4 linked regions of the Homo sapiens genome follow. The protein of the gene in region 4 purifies or fractionates together with the protein of the main gene of each other region. This does not show direct contact. Each region holds a gene or a part of one and is shown on either strand. Other genes may lie near its edges.

Region 1 (3,748 bases), on a different chromosome or scaffold from region 4:
CAGTAGGTACCACAGAAAGCAGAGGATTTGAATCCAAAGAGCGATCCTGCTCTGGAACTTCCTAACCCAGTGGTGCGTGTACATGAGTGCAGCGGAGGTGCCTGCGCTATTCTACAACTTCCTAACCCAGTGGGGCGTGTGCGTGAGTGCAGCGGAGGGGCCCGCGCTATTCTAGAAATTCCTAACCCAGTGGGGCGTGTGCGTGAGTGCTGCGGAGGGGCCCGCGCTATTCTAGAACTTCCTAACCCAGTGGGGCGTGTGCGTGAGTGCAGCGGAGGGGCCCGTGCTATTCTAGAACTTCCTAACCCAGTGGGGTGTGTGCGTGAGTGCAGCAGAGGGGCCCACGCTATTCTGGCAACAGTTCCCTGTTGGAATTCCTACATGAGAACGAGTGGCAAATACAGGTTTATTCCCAAATAACGAGTTAAATTCTTATAAGACATTGCTATTGAGGGTAAGAAAAGATGGGAAATAAAAAACATACAACAGGAAGAACTAATCTACTACCACGTGCCTCACATCCTGAACCCAATGCTGCCTATGACTGAGGCTTACTAAAGGTGGCTGCTCAGGATCCTCTTTGGGAAAAAACAAACAAACAAACAAAAACACTGCCAAAGTTTTTAAATACCTTCAGGCCTCTTCTGAAAAGAAAAGTTGCCTGACGAGTATCTTTCTGATGATTTAATTTATTTCCACTCCTGGTAAAATTAGCTGGAATGTTATTTCTGCAACAAAAACACATAGGCCATGCTAAGCCATTTAACTACTTTCAAACATCTTGAGGAAAAATAAGCAAAAATAGTTAAATTCATAGGCTGCAAACATGAGGTGCAAGAAACAAACAACTCTGAATTATTTGCTTATTAACATGAAGCTACTGAGATTTGATTAACAAATACCTCCCTCCGAAGCATAGCACATAACCACGTGTTAATTTCAAACCACTTTATCTTCCAAATATTCAATCCTCTAATATCCCATATATCTTCTGAAGACATTAATAATCACATTTTTAGTGCTATTTCCTATATTTGGTGAAAACATAACTTTACAATTTATAGGATTAGTACAAAGAAAAACCACACATAGGCCAAACTGAAGACGTAAAATAAACTGAAGACCAAAAATAAAGAGAAAGGTTTGAAAAATAACATCTCCTCCTCCAGCTTTCTCTTCCTTCCTCACTCAGAAACCATTATGTATTAACATAAACCATAGAGGCCAGGCATTATGGCTCACACCTGTAATCCCAGCACTTTGGGAGGTTGAGGTGAGTGGATCACTTGAGGTCAGGAGTTTGAGACCAGCCTGGGTAACATGGTAAAACCCCGTCTCTACTAAAAACACAAAAATTAGCCAGCCTTGGTGGCACACGCCTGTAGTCCCAGCTACTCAGGAGGCTGAAGCATGAGAATTGCTTCAATCAGGGAAGCAGAGGTTGCTGTGGGCCGAGATCACGCCACTGCACTCCAGCCCAGCGACACAGACTTCATCTCAAAAAATATACAAACCACAGAAAAACTTATACTCTTCTATTTCTTGTTCTTTCATGCACAGAACAATGCTCTTAATTATGACTGTCACCAATTCTTTTTTTTAATTTTAAGTTCTGAGACACGTGCTGAACGTGCAAGTTTCTTATGTAGCTATACATGTGCCATGGTGGTTTGCGGCACCTAATTTCTTTTGTTTTCTATAGGAAGTTAGTGAAGTACGAAAAATTAAAATTTCATATTTATCTATGAAATATTCAATCCTCTAACATTCCATGTCTTCAACTGATGTATTGATAAATATGAAACACTATATAAACGAGTGTTTAACAGATTCCCTAGTCTTACCTCCAATCTTTCAGAGATTCAAGTTCAAAACTGCCCTAGCTAACCCAATTAACATGTAAGTCTCACGTAAATGATGGGTTCTTATTTGAGAAGGTCCCCTTTCACAAAAGGTACTATCAAGTGATTCCCAAAAGATGATGGTTAAAACTGCAATTCCAGCCATTCCATTTTTTGTTTTTTTATTTTTATTTTTTTGAGACAGAGTCTCACTGTCACCCAGGCTGGAGTGCAGTGGCACCATCTTGACTCACTGCAACTTCCGCCCCCCAGGTTTAAGCGATTCTCCTGCCTCAGCCTCCCAAATAGCTGGAACTACAGGCATGAACCACCACGTCCAGCTAATTTTTGTATTTTTAGTAGAGATGGGGTTTCACCATGTTGGCCAGGCTGGTCTCGAACTCCTGGCCTCAGGTGATCCACACGCAGCGGCCTCCCAAAGTGCTGGGATTGCTGGCATGCACCGGTCACCACATCGGGCTAATTTTTGCATTTTTTTTTTTTTTTTTTTTTGAGACGGAGTCTCGCTCTGTCGCCCAGGCTGGAGTGCAGTGGCGGGATCTCGGCTCACTGCAAGCTCCGCCTCCCGGGTTCACGCCATTCTCCTGCCTCAGCCTCCCAAGTAGCTGGGACTACAGGCGCCCGCCACCACGCCCGGCTAATTTTTTGTATTTTTAGTAGAGACGGGGTTTCACCGTTTTTAGCCGGGATGGTCTCGATCTCCTGACCTCGTGATCCGCCCGCCTCGGCCTCCCAAAGTGCTGGGATTACAGGCGTGAGCCACCGCACCCGGCCTAATTTTTGCATTTTCAGTAGAGATGGGGTTTTGCCACATAACTCCTGACCTCAGGTGATCTGCCTGCTTTAGCCCCCCAAAGTGCTGGGAATACAGGCATGAGCCACTGTGCCCAGCCACTGCATTTTTTAAAAACCTCATTCCAGGTTTTTTTTGCTGACTTATCTTCCACGAAAGATAAATAAATAATACTTGAAACTGAATAAGGAAACTTCACACCTCATCAACTTCATCTACTTTGTCCTTACAGAGAACAGAATGCCATAACAACAGATCATAATTTTTCTTTTCTTTCTTTTTCAGAGATGGGGGTCTCACTATGTTGCCCAGCAGGTTAGCCCTGAATCCTGGGCTCATGTGATCCTCCTGCCTCAGCCTCGTAAGTAGCTGGGACCACAGGCACATGCCACTGCACCCAGCTCACAGGCCATAATTTTTGGTTTTTATTATTCAATTTAGTATAAAAATAATTTCAGTTTAACAAGTGTTCATGAAGAATTCTCCCTTTCTAGTTTGATTTTTCCACAAATAACATACATTGTGATTCAGTGTTCTAGTAAGAGCCATCCAGACTGAGTAACAAATTGAGATTTCAGAATTCTCAATTTTGAATAATTCCCACTAAGATGTTAAGAGTTCTACCAGGGCTGGGCACAGGGGCGCATGCCCGTAATCCCAGCACTTTAGGAGGCTGAGGTGGGAGGATCACTTGAGGCCAGGAATTGAGACCAGCCTGGACAACATGGTGAGACCCTGTCTCTATTAAAAAAAAAAAAAAATTAGCAGGGCATGGTGGCATGTATCTGCAGTCCCAGCTACTCAGGAGGCTGATGTGGGAGGATCGCTTGAGCCCAGGGCAGGCCAAGGCTCCAGGGAGCAGTGATGGCGCCACTGCACTCCAGCCTCAGCAACAGATCGAGAAGCCCTGTCTCAAAAAACAGGGAGAAAAAAAAGAGAGTTCTACTAAAGTGATCAGCTTTTGCAATTTTATTCCATATGTCAAAGAGGTAAAGAAGCAGAGTGATGCTTTTTAAAAAGCTTATATCGGTTAACTTCATCAGTAAGAATTCATCTAATAAACAAGCTATTACTGGATACATCCATGTGGATG
Region 2 (3,748 bases), on a different chromosome or scaffold from region 4:
TTCCTCCTAATCAAGCAATATTTTCTTTATCAATAATTAATTTCACATGGACAAGATCTGGGGAAACCATTTGAGATTTTATTCAATAAAAGAAATAATAGGCAGGGCATGGAGGCTCACGCCTGCAATCCCAGCACTTTGGCAGGCCGACGCAGGTGGATCACCTGAGGTCAGGAGTTTGAGACCAGCCTGGCCAACATGGGGAAACCCCGTCTCTACTAAAAATACAAAAATTAGCCGGGCATGGTGGTACGTGCCTGTAGTCCCAGCTGCTTGGGAAGCTGAGGCAGGAGAATCGCTTGAACCCAGGAGGCAGGAGTTGCAGTGAGCAGAGACTGTGCCACTGCACTCCAGCCTGGGTAACAGAGTAAGACACCATCTCAAAAGAAAAAAAAAAAAAAAAAAAGAACAAAAGGGAACAAGGATAGGAAGCTGTTTTTTGAATTCAGGTATAGTGTGGCAAGCTGTAAAAAAAGCAAGAATTTCACAACTCACCATTAGCTGATTTTAAATCAGGGAGGATGTGATTCACAAAGAACTCAGTTAGGTTTACAAGTTCATTTGCTTGTGTAATTCCATGCTGAAAAGCAAATTCATAACATAGTAAAATAACAAAATACCTGTATATATCTATCACATTAGAAATTCAGGCAATTTTAGAAAACCATGTTAAAATGGAGATGAACACTTCAAAATACAAATTGCTTATGTATAAAATGAGACTGTACTGGCTGTGTACAGGAGCTCACGGCTGTAATCCCAGCACTTTGGGAGGCCGAGGCGGGTAGATCACTTGAAGTCAGGAGTTCAAGACTAGCCTGGCCAACATGGCAAAACCCCGTCTCTACTAAAAACACAAAAAATTAGCCAGGTGTAGTTGCATGCACCTGTAATTCTAGCTACTCGGGAGGCTGAGGCATGAGAATTGCTTGAACCCGGGAGGCAGAGGTTGCAGTAATCTGAGATGTTGCCATTGCATTCCAGCCTGGATGACAGAGCAAGACAACGTCTCAAAAAAAAAAAAAAAAAAAAAAAAAAAGAGAGAGAGGGACACTTCAAAACATGAACTGCTTAGGCTAGGCATGGTGGCTCATGCTTGTAATCCCAGCACTTTGGGAGGCCAAGGCAGGTGGATCACCTGAGGTCAGGAGTTCAAGAACAGCCTGACCAACATGGAGAAACCCCATCTCTACTACAAATACAAAATTAGCCAGGGTGGTGGCGCATGCCTGTAATCCCAGCTACTCGGGAGGCTGAGGCAGGAGAATCACTTGAACCCGGCAAACGGAGGTTGCGGTGAGCCAAGATCGTGCCATTGCACTCCAGCCTGGGCAACAAGAGCGAAACTCCGTCTCAAAACAAAACAAAACAAAACAACAACAACAAAACACAACCTGCTTATGTATAAAATATAAAATAAGACTATACTGTCTAGGCACGGTGACTCACACCTGTATCCCAGCACTCTGGGAGGCTGAGGTGTGAGGATCACACGAGGTCAGGAATTTGAGACCATCCTGACCAATATGGTGAAACCTTGTCTCTACTAAAAATACAAAAATTAGCCAGGTGTGGTAGTGCACACTTGTAATCCCAGTTACTTGGGACGCTGAGGCAGGAGAGTCGCTCGAACTCGGGAGGTGGAGGTTGCAGTGAGCTGAGATCACGCCATTGCACTCCAGCCTGGTGACAAAGTGAGACTCCATCTCAAAAATATAAAAATGTAAAATAAGACTATACTAATAGACAATAAAGAAACTTTCCTCAATTAAAGAACAGCTAAGTTTAAGTTAAGCATATTTGATACAGCGGGTCTCAGCTAAGGTAACAAGTGTGGCCATCTATCAATTTTCTGGTCTATAAGAAACTTAAGTGCTCAATACATCAACATAAAGCCATCTTCAGAGATTATATAAATCTTAATCAGAATAGGTTATCTGGCAGAGTAAGCTCTATTATCAGAGACGTTATTTCTTTTTGACTTGTGTGGGTGTCACTGATGTCTGTTTTAGAAACAAAACCACATTAAAAATATTTACCTTCTGTGTTTGGGCTTTTGATGCCAAAGATGTCACTAGGTAGATGGCTGCATCTTTGTGTTTCCAGTTGACAGATGGATTTTTTGCGTATTCCTGCAGCATGGAATTAACATAACCAGAGAAGATTCCTGTCACAGGTCCCTCAAAAAACTTGCATAATCCTCGTACCAGATCACAAGCAGCCCTGCGTCTAGTATCAATATCTATGAAATGAAAAGAAAATATATTATGGGGAAAAAAAACAACCACCAACAAGCTGATCCAATTTATAAGAAAACAAATTGCCTGGAATAATTTGGCTACGATTGTAAAACGGAAAAAAAAGAACGAAAAACAAAGGGCCACCCAATAGCTATCAGCAACACAAACAATGAAAAAAACATTCCCGCCCCCAAGAAATACAAAATCAAAATGAAACTAAAGAGGTCACAGAATCACAGAATTTTGATAAATACTATGTAAGAACAGACAAATGATTCAACTTTTGATATTTTCATTCAGGTCATATAAGAGCTTTTTAAGACAAGTTGAAGAAAGACAACAGTTCTCAATGAAAGCCCGCTGAAAAAACACTCTTATTCTCAATCCCACTTCTCCCATTTACTAGAAAGAGAACCACCTTAAAACTGGCTTGCTAAGAGACTAGTAACTAAAAAACCAAGATACACACCAGATCCTTCCAAATCTCTCCTTATGTACTCCTCAGAATTATCTTCAAATGCTTCTTCATCAGCAGCTACAAGGAGAGATGATATTTCAGATAACACTCCAAAAGACGTCACTGTACTTTACAGCTGAGAATGCAGAAGAGTATGTAAAACTGCCTTGTTCTACAGCAAAGAATTCGTTCCCATCAGATGACTACTTCATATACTCTTAATCATTATCTAGAGCAGCAAATGCTACCCTGAAAGGTGAGGTATTAGGTAATTCACACAACTATGAGATAGGCTCACTTGTTCTAATGTGACAGTTTCCCCAGAATTGGATTATACCTGCAACTGTCAAAAATGTTAGGGATCAGTATCAGAATGCTAACTTTTAATTTCACCAAATAAGAACATTAAAATACCAACAACCTAATTTTAATCACTATTATTTCATTAAAGTCATTTCAACAACAAATAAGTAGAGTGGACAATGTCAGAAATGGCCGGCATGGTGGCTCACGCGTGTAACCTAGCACTTTGGGAGGCTGAAATGGGAGGATCGCTTGAGCCCAGGAGTTTGAGACCAGCCTGGTCAACACAGCGAGATCTCATCTCTATTTTTATCATATAAATTAAAAAAAAAAAAAAGTCTACACACACACACACACACACACACACACACACACACACACACTGCAGTTGTATGATCATGTCTCACTGCAGCCTCCACCTCCTGAGCTCAAGCAAAACTCCCACCTAAGCTGCTTGAGTACCTGGGACCACAGGCCCATGCCACCATACCCAACTAATTTATTTATTGTAGAGATAAGGTTTTGCCATTTTGGCCAGGCTGGTCTTTAACTCCTGGGCTCAAGTGTTCCTCCCACCTCAGCCTCCCAAAGTGTTGGGATTAAAGGTATGGGCCACCACACCCAGCCAGAAGATTTATCCTTTAAACATATTTTTATGAAAACACAACAGGAAATAAAATCTCACGCTATATTGTCCTTAATTTCCTTATTTTGTTCCAGATGTAATTTGAAAACCACTGATCTAATA
Region 3 (3,748 bases), on a different chromosome or scaffold from region 4:
TGATATAGCATAGATGGGAAGAGCACTGGAAGAGAGGTCTAGGAAGTGAGAGGCCAGGGTTTGGGTGGATCAGTTATGTACATTCTTATCAATTTCAATATAAAGACTGGAGAGTGGGACAGTGGGCCTTTATGACATAATTCAAAACTGAAGATTATAGGGAGAAAGGAGGAAGCATAGTCTGAAAGAAGTAAGAAGACTCATGACAGATATCTTTCCCACCTCTAGAAACAGTGGGAGGAAAGTTACGGAGCAAACAAACAAAAACAGCCACAACTGCACAGTGGAAGAGAGTCCGGTTTCCATTACAGCAAGAAAGTGAAAGCAACATCTAAGAATGGTTCAGACTGGATTTTGCAGATGATGGATAGTTAATTTCACAAAGTACAGTAGAAGGGTATGAAAAGTTGAGAAGAGGTTTAAGAAAAAGCATAGACCCCACTCCAGCCTGGACAAGAGAGCTAGACTGTGTCTCCAAAAAAAAAAAAAAAAAAAAAAAAGTGTAGACCCAGGCCAGGCCGGGCGCAGTGGCTCACACCTGTAATCCCAGCACTTTGGGAAGCCAAGGTGGGCGGATTGCCTGAGGTCAGAAGTTGGAGACACGCCTGCACAGCACAGTGAAACCCCATCTCTACTAAAATACAAAAAATCAGCTGGGCATGGCGATGTGTGCCTGTAGTACCAGCTACTCGGGAGGCTGAGGCAGGAGAATTGCTTGAACCCAGGAGGCAGAGGTTGCAGTGAGCCGAAATCATGCCACTGCACTCCAGCCTGGGCAACAGAGCGAGACTCCATCTCCAAAAAAAAAAAAAAAAAAAGTGTAGAACTTTTTATGAATGGAATGCCAGAGACAAAATGTGAACAGGAAGTCTGGAGTTTCTGTGGTTACTAACAAGGACTAATCCTAGCACACATGACTCCTGATATACTCACGTGTTTCTCTAAGAAATGGAAACTGCTGGGTCAAAGATATTTTTACTTTAAAATAGCCGTACCGATATATTCAATGTTATCCCTACAACCTTCTCAATACATACTAACAAAACTTTTTTCTCTTTGGCCAGTATAATGAGAAAAAAAAAAAAGTCACTGCTTTACTTTGCATTTTTCTGCTGGTGAGGTAAATCATTATTCCATGTTTACCTGCTAGCCATATTTCCTCTTCTGTGGAACTTGCCCACTTAAAAAACTGAGTTGTTTTCCCTTTTAAATCGATGTAGAGTGCTTTAAAAATCTATTTTATTCTGCTCTTAATGATTCATACAAATCAATCTTCTAGATTCGTTTCATATCTTTCAATGGCTCATGATAGGGTGACATAAGGCTCAGTAGGTTCTCTCTCTTCAACATCCCTCTCTACTATATATTAGAGTTTGTCTAATTAAGACCTTAGTCAAATCTGGCCATACCATTGGTTTCATAACTGTTTTTGCACTACAGTGGTAGAGATGGTATGGCCCACAAAGCAGAAAATATTTGCTACCTGGCCCTTTACAGAAAGTTTGTGGACCCCTGCTATATACCTTTCAGGGCCCCTGAACCGCTTAAGAGTTCCAAGAACACAGCAGATCTTTATGTTTACTGACACACTCACTGAAATGCTGTTCCTAGTTCCCAAAATGCTCCAGACATTCCCCCTAATCTATTCAACGAATCTATTACTGGCCTTTCTTGGTGTTTTTACAGATTTATATCACAAAAGCTGTAAATACACTTATTGAACTTGTTTATTTACATATCTCTTTCTCCACTAGTATGTAAATCTCTCGACAAGAGATAATCCCAGCACTAATAAATGGCACAAAAGTCCTTCATGGTTTGCTAGCTCTCTCATCATTTCCTAGTTCTGCTATGCTCCAGTCAAAATATATATTTAATTTCATTAAATATTTTTCAAAAACACAATTTCAAATGGTAGCATAATAATCAATAGTTCTGTACTTTTATATTCTTATCTTTAAAATCTTGTTGGATACCACCTATTCCTAATAATTTATTTGCATTTATTTAGTATATTCATGATTTGCTGAAATACTTCTCTTCCTTAATTCCTTTCTTAGTAAAAACAAAAGTGGTGGAATCTTATCCTTCCTAGCATTAACTTTTTCATTTGTGGTAGAAACATATGCATCTAGGATAAAGGGGCTCCACTAATAAATTATTTTACTAATGGCTTCGGAGTCATCTATAAAATGCAACTCAAATATGAATTTTTCTCTAATTTTCAGTATAAATTTAACTTCCTACACCTTGTAGGCAGTTCTATTCTCCTTATGTGAAACACATATTTTTTTGCTTGTTTCCCCAGTAAAACCTTCATTTACTTTACCAGGAGTTTTACTAAACGTATATTTCAATTTTAGCACTTACGGGCCTTTTCATTTCTCTTATTCCCCAAATTTAATCAAATTTGAGATTTCTTTGGTTTTCTCTCACCTATTTGTGTTAAGATCATTAAGAATTGCACCCACAGATATTTGGTGCATTCACTTTAGAACCCGGTTTTATATAGTTGTTACCAATTATATCTCATCCAGGTAAAGATTTTCTTTTTCTAAAATGTGGAAAGTTAAGCCCTGTCTTGTTTAACTTTGCAACTTACCCATTCATTATTCCCAGCTCAGTTTAGCTATCTTAAAAATGTGGTCTGTGATCTATAGTTAGTTATAGTATAAAATTCTGAATATGTATATGATATAAAAGTATACAAATAAAACAGCATGATGAGCTTTGCAGTCAAGCAGATCTAGATTCAGATTCAGGCTCGAACGCTCTGAGCCCTTGGACAAAGTACTTACCTATTTACACTTTGTTTTCTCATCAGTAAAATAGAAGTAACTTCCATGTATAACACAGAGCCAACATAATAAATGAGAAAAATGTACATGAAAGTGACAATGTATGTTAAATGCCTACAAATGATGTCTAGTACATTACAAGGAAAACGTTAATCCACTCTCTATTCCTCCAATCCCAAAGCAACAGGAACAATACTGTGTAGTCTCAATTTATTATATTAATAAGTTCATTATTAAATTCCCTTAAGTAAAAGCAATTTGCAGTATGGACCATGAGCTTTGGATGTTTACTTTGACTCAGTATTTTTGCTTTGGGGACTCTAAATAATCCAGAATGCAGAAATTGATTTTTGTATGAGGATGTTCATTGCAGTGTTTCTTATAACTGCAAAAAAATTAGAAACTGTTTAATAATGAGAAATCCACACAAACATGCAAACATTAAATATGGTGACAAAATAATTAAGTAGCATAAGAAAATGCTTATGGTGAGAATACAAAATTACTCACATAGTAAAGTCTCAACTGTGAAAAAAATCCAATAAACTCAGAAAAAAACATTGGAAGGAAATGCGCAAAAGGGCTTACAGTAGTTACTACGTAGTACTGATATTTGTAATTTTTATTTTATGGTTTTCTATAGTTTTCTGAAATAATTAACAGTGATAATGACATTGATGATAACAGCAGTTATTATTTATAGAAAAGTTAATACATGTCAGGCCCAGTTTTAAGAGCTTAGTGTATTAACTCATTTAATCCTCATAACATAAGATGAAAAAGTGAGATTAAATAACTTGCCCAAGGTCACACAGATAATTACAGAAGGTGCCAAAATCTGAATCCAAATAGTGTGGCTCCAAAGCGCCTGTTCTCTACACTACATTGAAAAGTTTTGCTTTGTTTTAAAAATTTAACCATTAAAAAGGCATATATCAATCCCAACTTTA
Region 4 (3,989 bases):
TCTGGTCACACGGAAGGGAAAAGGTCGTACTTGGGTCAACTATTTATAGACAGAAGAAACAAGGTCCAGTCTCCAGAGCCAGGGACCTGGTGATCAGAGGTCAGGGGTCACTAGAAAGATCTCTGGGAAAAGTATGTAATTTTCTACAAAATACTTTAATATCTACCCCAATTTAACCTTTCCTGGTTTTAAGGGGCAGGAGGGAGAGGAAGGCAGTGTAGGAGCTAGGCAAAGTCAAAACAAAAGCTGAATGGTATTTTGTCTCACTGCACATATTCATACAGAAATGTGCGTACATGTGGACACTGAGTATATGTGTGCATACTTAGCTATTCAATTGTACTCATAACTGTATTCACATCTATATTTCCTTCAAAAAAGTCCTGGGGCAAAATAAGAGACAACCTGAGTAAACTCACTAGACTTAGGGCAATTGCTATTACGATTTTCCATGTGGTTTCCATAAGCAAGGTGCACACACTTGACACCACACACCACAATAGTCAAATGGAAGGGAATACAATAGGAAATGGTTCTGAATCATTAGTTCTCAGCACTGATTGCACACCAGACCATCTGGGGAATTTTAAAAACACTGCCACCTGACTCCCATCCTGCAAGATTCTCAGATAATTACCTTGGATGCCACCTGGGCATCCTGATATTTAAATGGTCCCCAGGTGATTTTTAATCACTGCCAAGATTGAGAGCCAATGATGTGAATCAATGATACTCCAGCACATGGGCGCAATAATCATTTCAACAACATAACCTTGGGGTCAAGGAGTGACCCATATTTAAATGAACCCACCACGCCTGTGGTGAAGTTGTCACTGAACTAATTTGGAGCATCTACCATGAATAGAAACCAGTCCAGCTGGAATGCAAGAAGTAAGCAACCAGGTCCTGTCTGGTGCGCCTGCCACCCCAAAGGCTTGGGTCAGGAGCTTCTGAGAACCAGAAGCCCAGATTCGAATCTTGAGAAGCAGCCAAAAGTTTTGCTACAGGAACACATCTTACAGCCAATTATTATGCATGTTATTGCCACCAAGTAGGCTTCATGATGAGGGGTGGAGGTGCTAAGGAAGGGCTCCTTTCTAGAACTTCACCTTGACATTTAAACTGATCCTAGAGAACTTTTCTACATTCAACAGTGTTGGGGAAATGAGTTTTATACTCAGAGGTTATGCCATAGTGAAGGATAGTTCTCTTTACTAGAAAGCCAACTCCAAAAAGGAAGCTTACATATCATTTAATTTTAAAAGTCACAGAATTAGAAATTTTAAGATACCCCAAATCTCAATACTCTAAACTTAAAGATATATCATTTACTAACAGTGCCTATGAAGTGCAGCTCACATATGCCAAGTGCACTGCTCCCAGCCTCCTCCCTGCATTGTTTTATACCCCGTGCTCCTCTGTGCCATCTGGTCAGGTGTGTCAATCCTCCTTGGCACTTTCTCATGATTCTTTTTTTCACAACTATTTCTATAGGAGCATCAAGGATGAAGAACAGTTGAATGCAGTTTTTCTCAGTGTCAAATACTATATATTACTCTTCAAATCAAAATTCAAAGTGGAGCCGGGAGTGGTGGCTCCCACCTGTAATTCCAGCACTTTAGGAGGCTGAGTTGGGCAGATCGCTTGAGCTCAGGAGTTCAAGACAAGCCTGGCCAACACGGCAAAACCCCCTCTCTACTAAAAATCCAAAAATTAGCTGGGCATGGTGGTGGGCACCTGTAGTCCCGGCTACTCGGGAGGCTGAGGCACAAGAATCATTTGAACCTGGGAGGCAGAGGTTACCGTGAGCCAAGTTCGTGCCACTGCACTCCAGCCTGGGCAACACAGCGAGACTCTGTCTCAAAAAATATATTTAAAAAAAATTTCAAAGTGGTACCTAATAAAAAAATCTTACAGATCTTTTTCAACAGGCTATTTCTCAAATTAAAAAGATACTAAAGAGAATAATAATTACTGAAGAGAAAATCCAAATGCCATTTAAATGTGTCAACAACCGTAACTCAGAGTTTTACAAGAGCTAAGATAGTAAAGAGGTAGACAACATCACCGCTAGAGAACGAGACAAACCCTAAAACTGAATTTTATAAAAAAGTATAAGCCTAAATACCATTCACATTTAGCTTACAGAACCTTAGACCATGAGCAACTGATGAAACGTCCAATGACAGACTATCAAGGCTTTACAAAGCACTGTATCTGAGAACTGGTAAGTATTCAGTTTGACAATATAAGATGTTCCAATAAGGAATTAATCAGGATAATAAACAAAGTATATGAACAATATGTCTAGCTTTCTAACAACAAAACAAGTTATTTCCAAGTTCTAGAAAGCCATATCTCAAGGGATTAGAACAGAGACCATTAAGGAGGAAGAGAGAACTTGAATTGGCAGGGAATGTGCTATATAATGGCACTTCCGTCTATAATCAACTTCAGAATGCATACTCCACAGGAAATAAGAGATACTATGGCTCTTCAAGCAAGCAATGGTGTGTTAAAATTAAAAAAAAAAAGAAATACTGTGGGGAAAAAAGAATGAAGGAGAATAAAGATATTAGAGTCAAATATAAATTCCGTATTATACCTAGGCTCTGGGATCAACACCACCTCCAGGCTTTCCTAATTCATGTGAGCATGGGTTAGCATTAAAAAGGCACTATTTTACTTTGAGGTGATTACATTGCTTTACTCAAAGAACTTGGTGGAATGGCTAAAGTTTTAAAAACAAACAAAACTAACGATACTAAGTATTAGTGAGGATGCAGGGCAACCAGAACTCACATACACTGTTTGTAAGAATGTAAAACCGTAGAGTTGCTCTGGAAAAGCTTGGCCATTTCTTATAAAGTTAAACATACAGTTACATGAATCAGCAATCCCACTCCTAGGTATTTACCCAGAATAGATGAAAACTATGCTCACACAAAAACCTGTAGGTAAGTGTTTACAGCAGCATTATTCATAATTGCCAAAACCCGGGAACAACTCAAATGTTCTTTGATAAACCATCTGTGATACTTCCATACAATGGCAAACTACTTCATCAAGAAAAAGGATGTACCACATCCTAACATGCACAACAGTGTGCCTGAATCTCAAAAACATGATGCCAGGTGAAAAATTCAGACTCAAAAGGTTACACAATGTGGGGCTGGGTGCAGCGGCTCACGCCTGTAATCCCAGCACTTTGGGATACTGAGGCGGGTGGATCACCTTTGGTCAGGAGTTCATGATCAGCCTGATGGGGTTTAGTAGAAACCCCATCTCTACTAAAAATACAAAATTAGCCGGGCATGGTGGCACATGCCTGTAATCACAGCTATCCGGGAGGCTGAGGCAGGAGAATCGCTTGAACCCAGGAGGCGGAGGAGGTTCCTGTGAGCTGAGATTGTGCCATTGCACTCCAGCCTGGGCAACAAGAGTAAAACTCCGTCTCACAAAAAAAAAGAAAAAAAGGTTACACAATGTATGATTCCACTTTTATGACATTCTGGAAAAGGCAAAACTAGGAAGATGGTAAACAGATCAGTGGTTGCCAGGGGTTAGGTGTAGGAAGAGAGTCTCACTACAAAGGTGCAGCATTAGGGAATTTAGGTTGGAGGCAGAGGACTCTTTGGGATAATGTTAACGGTGGTGCTTACATTACCTATACAGTCAACAAAACTAAAAAAAGAAAATAAAAGAAAATCCGTAATTTTTTTTGCACACAAATTATTTTTTTCGAGAAGGTGTCATGCTCTGTTGCCCAGGCTGGAATGTGGTGCTACCATCTCGGCTCACTACACCCTCCGTCTCCCAGGTTCAAACAATTCTCCTGCCTCAGCCTCCTGTGTAGTTCGGATTACAGATGTATGCCACGACACCTGGCTAATTTTTGTATTTTCAGTAGAGATGGGGCTTTGCCATGTTGCCCAGGCTGGTCTCGAACTCCTGAGCTCAAGCGATCTGCCCGCCTTGGTCTCCCAAAG

What was found.
Region 1: the proteins of MAP7 (region 4) and FYTTD1 purify together in Homo sapiens (affinity purification with mass spectrometry; one large-scale study listed by BioGRID and IntAct). This does not show direct contact.
Region 2: the proteins of MAP7 (region 4) and CSE1L purify together in Homo sapiens (affinity purification with mass spectrometry; one large-scale study listed by BioGRID and IntAct). This does not show direct contact.
Region 3: the proteins of MAP7 (region 4) and TNPO1 purify together in Homo sapiens (affinity purification with mass spectrometry; one large-scale study listed by BioGRID and IntAct). This does not show direct contact.

What each region holds. Positions count from the first base shown.
Region 1 is NC_000003.12:197,770,383-197,774,130, reverse strand, and holds part of FYTTD1 (UAP56-interacting factor), read right to left. Parts: intron 729-3,748; coding exon 632-728; intron 1-631. UniProt on the Homo sapiens protein: Required for mRNA export from the nucleus to the cytoplasm. Acts as an adapter that uses the DDX39B/UAP56-NFX1 pathway to ensure efficient mRNA export and delivering to the nuclear pore.
Region 2 is NC_000020.11:49,073,812-49,077,559, reverse strand, and holds part of CSE1L (exportin-2), read right to left. Parts: intron 2,776-3,748; coding exon 2,710-2,775; intron 2,243-2,709; coding exon 2,040-2,242; intron 581-2,039; coding exon 496-580; intron 1-495. UniProt on the Homo sapiens protein: Export receptor for importin-alpha. Mediates importin-alpha re-export from the nucleus to the cytoplasm after import substrates (cargos) have been released into the nucleoplasm.
Region 3 is NC_000005.10:72,819,661-72,823,408, reverse strand, and holds part of TNPO1 (transportin-1), read right to left. Parts: intron 1-3,748. UniProt on the Homo sapiens protein: Functions in nuclear protein import as nuclear transport receptor. Serves as receptor for nuclear localization signals (NLS) in cargo substrates.
Region 4 is NC_000006.12:136,540,197-136,544,185, forward strand, and holds part of MAP7 (ensconsin), read right to left. Parts: intron 1-3,989. UniProt on the Homo sapiens protein: Microtubule-stabilizing protein that may play an important role during reorganization of microtubules during polarization and differentiation of epithelial cells. Associates with microtubules in a dynamic manner.